Regions from separate parts of the Homo sapiens genome. Here region 2 is linked to region 1. The links come from fine-mapping of genetic effects on gene expression. Tissue or cell type: unexposed skin. Region 1 holds a variant in brackets; the other region holds the start of a gene. All regions are shown on one strand. Distances are from middle to middle.

The links. PIP is the estimated chance that this variant, and not a neighbour inherited with it, causes the effect.
Region 2: it holds the start of P2RX7, and the variant in region 1 is fine-mapped to the expression of P2RX7 in unexposed skin (GTEx, PIP above 0.99). The same link has a PIP of 0.9 or more in tibial nerve and whole blood.

What each region holds. Positions count from the first base shown.
Region 1 is chr12:121,347,861-121,350,360 of GRCh38, forward strand. ANAPC5 (anaphase promoting complex subunit 5) reads right to left here. Exons shown (of 17, transcript NM_016237.5): 2 at 1-21. Among named protein-coding and RNA genes, the nearest start is that of ANAPC5, 3.3 kb to the right of the region's middle. The variant C/T (reference allele first, on the strand shown) is at 1,076.
Region 2 is chr12:121,131,417-121,134,164 of GRCh38, forward strand. It overlaps P2RX7 (purinergic receptor P2X 7), which reads left to right and starts at 1,460. Exons shown (of 13, transcript NM_002562.6): 1 at 1,460-1,679. The coding sequence starts at 1,555. All of the region lies in intron 2 of LOC105370032 (a long non-coding RNA gene), which reads right to left.

The DNA of each region.
Region 1 (2,500 bases):
TGACAGTGTAATATCTGGGCCCTGTGTAAAGGAGAGATAGGGAGGTATGGATTTTAAAGAGCTGGAGACTGATAAAGAATTGCAAACATAAATTCATTTATCAACCCCTCTGCTTTAATAATCACTCCAAACATGCAAATAAGGATTTTTCTATCTACCTAAAACACTAAAGTAATACTTCACATTTGCATACCATTTTTGTCTAGTCAGTGGAATGGTCTAAAATAGAAAAAAAGCATAGGATTTATAGTCTGAGGATCCACTGTTCCTTCCTTCTTAGCTTTGTAATCATTGCAAAATTGTGACCTCTGAGTTCTAGTTTCCTTCATCAGTAAAATGGAGATAATAATATCTCCCTTGTTTTTGGCAAAGATTAAATAAGATAATACAAAGTGCTTTGTAAACTGGAAAACACTATACAAATACTATTTTTCACAAACACAATCTCATTTGATCTTCTCCCAAACCTTGTAAGGTAGGCAGACATACTATGTGCTGAAGTCTATAAAGAGTATGACGAGAGGCCGGGCACAGTGGCTCATGCCTATAATCCCAACATTTTGGGAGGCCAAGGTGGGCAGATCACCTGAAGCCAGGAGTTCAAGACCAGCCTGGCCAACATGGCAAAACCCCGTCTCTACTAAAAACACAAAAATTAGCCAGGCATGGTGGCACACACCTGTAGTCCCAGCTACTTGGGAGGCTGAGGCGGGAGAATGGCTTGAACCTGGCAGGTGGAGGTTGCAGTGAGCCAAGATCACGCCATTGCACTCCAGCCTGGGCGACAGAGCAAGACTCCGTCTCCAATAAAAAAAAAAGAGTACCACAAGGAATAAAGAGTATGCAACCTCAGCTACCAAGAAGATTACAGTCTAGTTGAGATTTAAAACTAAATTTAGACTCTTTTTCAGAGAATAAGATGACTGCATATATGCCAACTTTAGATGTGGATAACCCAGCAATTGCACTTCTAGGGAAGTTATTTTGGCATACATTGTTTGAAATGAAGAAAAACTGAAAGGAGCCTGTAAGTCCAATAAAGACTTAATTTATAATACAGAGTTGAATTATGTTG[C/T]TTTTCTTACTGTGAAATATAATGCAGCCATTAAAAAGACCATTTGGGGCCTGGCGCAGTGGCTCACGCCTGTAATACCAGCGCCTTGGGAGGCTGAAGCAGGCAGATTACTTGAGGTCAGGAGTTCGAGACCAGCCTGGACAACATGGTGAAATCCCATGCCCAGGCTGCTCTTGAACTCCTAGGCTCAAGTGATCCTCCCACGTTGGCCTCCCAAAGTCTAGGCACCAAGCCAAAAATTAACTAATTTAAGAAATCAAACAGTTAGTAAAGGAGTTGAGGTCTGGCTGGGATGCTACTAGATGAACTCTACATACATTTTGATTAAAACTATACAGTAGGGGGCCAGGTGTGGTGGCTCATGCCTGTAATGCCAGCACTTTGGGAAGCTGAGGCAGGTGGATCCCTTGAGCCCAGGAGTTCAAGACTAGCCTGAGCAACATAGGGAGACTACATCTCTACCAAAATTTAAAAATTAGCCAGGCATGGTGGCAGGTGCCTGTAGTCCTAGCTACTTAGAAGACTGAGGTAGGAGGACAGCTTGAGCCTGGGAGGTGGAGGCTATGGTAAGCTAGGATCGCACCACGGCACTCCAGCCCAGGTGACTGAGGGAGTGAGATCCCACCACTCTAAAAAAATTAAAAAAAAAATAAATTTAAAAATAAAAAATTAAATAAAATAACTATATAGTAGTTAGCCAGGTTAAAAACCAGAAAGAATTCCAAACAGCAAAAAACAACATGAGCAGGAAGGTGAGAGTTAAGAGACCAGAATCACTGTTTCTATTTTTTTTTTTTTTTTGGAGACGGATGCCCAGGCTGGAGTGCAGTGATGTGATCTCAGCTCACTGCAACCTCCACCTCCTGGGTTCAAATGATTTCCTGCCTCAGCCTCCCGAGTAGCTGGGACTACAGGCGCACATCACAATGCCCGGCTAATTTTTTTTTGTATTTTTAGTAGAGATGGGGTTTCACTGTGTTGGCCAGGCTGGTCTCGAACTCCTGACCTCAAGTGATCCACCCACCTCAGCCTCCCAAAGTGCCGGGGTTACAGGTGTGATCCCACCCGGCCTTTTATTTACCAAAATTTTAGTATTATAACTTTAATAATGGAGGGAAATGCATTTATAGTAATAGCAGACGTGGCTAGCCCTGGGAGCCACAAGTTATAAAGACATCCCTTTTATTTAACTGGGTAGGTCTCTTGACCATGGTGTCCTCAGTTCTCCCCTCTTCCCATGCCCCTCACCCACAAATACAAGTGATAAATTTTTTAAAAAAGCCTTTATAAACTATACTAAGGAATATAAATGCAACTCTAGACACTAATTTTATTAGGTTTATCTTTTAAGATCCCATAATATAGAGGCCCAGGGACCCAGATCTGTTTCTGCCATCACTGTTACTCAACAGACAATGCTTATCC
Region 2 (2,748 bases), 220 kb before region 1:
AAAGCAATAGGAGATAGTGAGCTTCCTGGGGCTGGTAAGAGTGGGGAGCCCTTACCACTCCCAGGACTAAAGGAGGGAGTGGTGCCCAGAAGCCCTGCCTATATGCAACTGAGAAGGGCAGGGCCAGGGAGTCACGTCCATCCTCACTGCTCTCCAGTCTCCTGAACTGGAAGCCAGAAGGTGAGGGGAACCCTGATGCAGTTTGTATGTGTGAGAAAGTACAATTAGTTTAGACTGAAAAACTGAAAATCTACCCGGCCACTTAGCAGGCTGGAATAACAGAAAGGGATCAAGCCAGCTGTAAAGATAACAGGGAACAATAATTCTCTGTAGCTGTAAAGTGATAATACAACCCTGCATCTTTGAGTGACTGCTGAAACATTGTCCTTTAAAATCAGAGACCTTCAGAAACTTTGCTGTTTGAAATTACATGACTAAGACTGAAATATTCCAATTTTGCCTGGAAGATTTAAGTCATCTTGACACAGAGAAGCAGCCTCAATTTACAACTCAGGAGCAGAGCTTCAGATAAAGATTTTCTGGACACATTTGACATGTATCTTAGCTATGTTGCTTCCTAGGAAACAGGGCCCTGGGTCCTCTTTGCAATCCAGACTGAAGTTGACTGCTTTGTACAAACCTGTTTTGCTTTGAGTCCATCAAAACATGACTTCATTTAGATTTTATCTCAACTCCACTTTCCTCGGAATCCTATAATAAATTGCTGTTTTCCTTTGTTTGGTGATGTGCGTAGCTCTTCTGGTGGGTGGTGTCCCTCACTGAATAGGTCAACAAACCTAACTTTGTTGGACTGCCACTGTGTCCCTGGTGATCTTTGGCTGATTGGTCTAGGTCATAGATCGACCTGCCGGGGTGCAGAGGAGGGTGGAGAGTAACTCAGAGGGTCAAGCATGAAAGATCTGGCAGAAAAATAAAGCCCCTCCACCCCCACCACCCCTACCCCTGCAAATCTGATTTCCCCCACCAACTGCAGACCAGAGTATTATAAGGGGCGGTGGAAGAAGAGGGGGAGATCTTCATTTACCCAGAGCTCCTATACATCAGGGGCTGAATAAAGGGTTGTAGAAATGAATGAATCAATCTCTGAGTGGGGCTTCAGGCAATGGAAAGATCTCAGTCCTTTTCTGAGGCATAATGGAAGCTCCCAGTCTTGTGACATTTGCAAGGCTGCCCCTTTCTCCCAAGAGACATGAGACCAAAAAAGTGAAAGGAAAGGGGGGAAAAGGGAGAATTCTAAAAATGCCCATCCTCTGAACACCATCTTTGTGTAGGCATCTGGGGGAGGCCAGCTGGGGTGAGGTCATCTGCCAGCCAGGCCCGTAGGACTTGGCGCTTCTTGTTTATCACAGCCACATGTGGGGCCACTGCCAGGGCCCGCCCCAACTCTGCAGTCATTGGAGGAGCTTGAAGTTAAAGACTCCTGCTAAAAACCAGTACGTTTCATTTTGCAGTTACTGGGAGGGGGCTTGCTGTGGCCCTGTCAGGAAGAGTAGAGCTCTGGTCCAGCTCCGCGCAGGGAGGGAGGCTGTCACCATGCCGGCCTGCTGCAGCTGCAGTGATGTTTTCCAGTATGAGACGAACAAAGTCACTCGGATCCAGAGCATGAATTATGGCACCATTAAGTGGTTCTTCCACGTGATCATCTTTTCCTACGTTTGGTAAGTGGGATCTGGGGAGGACCCAGATCTCTGCAGTGGCCGACAGCACAGAAAGCCCCAGCGGGCAGCTTCAGGTGCACATTCTGAATCTCACATGGTTTTCGAATCTGAGACGTGCTCTCACAGCCAGCTGGGCGGGAGGGAGGAAGCAGCAGCAGGCAAGAGGAAACGGTGCCAGGCTGCAGCAGAGAGAAGCCACAGGACAAGCGGGATTCCTTTCTGCTCTACTTCAGGCCCGCCAGGGCGCGCAGGGCAGGGCGTGCCTGGGGAAGGTAGGAAAGCGCAGGGCAACACCCTGGATCCCCAGGGAGGAGGCGAGGATCTCAGGGCACGCCTGGTGATCATGCTGGCATCTGAGTCACCATGCTTGGGAGGAATAGGACCAGGCTTGAAAATGTGTTATAACTTTAGGTCCTCACCAACGTCAGGAAGGCCCTGCTTTTTGGTTTTTGTTTCTTCTAAAAGAAACTTACTGAGATATAATTTATACACCATACAATTGACCCATTTAAAGGGTACCATTTAATGATTTTCAGATTATTCCCAGAGTTGTGCAACCATCCCCACAATCAATTTTAGAATATTTTAATCGACTCAAAAGGAATCCCACACTCCTTCACCATCATTTCCAACACTGTTCCTCCTCCTTCCCACCCATCAATTTCCTTTCTGCCTCTATGGATTTGCCGATTCTGGACATTTCATATAAATGGAATCACATAATATGTGGTCCTTTGTGGCACTTAGCGTGTTTTCAATGCTCATCCATGTTGTAGCATGTGTTGATACTTCATTCAATTTTTTTTTTTAAAGAGACGGGGTCTCACTATTTTGTCCAGGCTGGTCTCAAACTCCTGGACTCAAGTGATCTGCCTGCCTCGGCCTCCCAAAGTGTCAGGATTACAGGCGTGAGCCATTGCACCCGGCTGATACTTCATTCCTTTTTACGGCTGAGTAGTACTCCATTGCATGGATAGACCACTTTTTTCTATCCATTCATCCATTGATGGACATTGGGGTTGTTTCTCTTTTTTGGCTATCATGAATAATGCCACATGAACATTTGTGT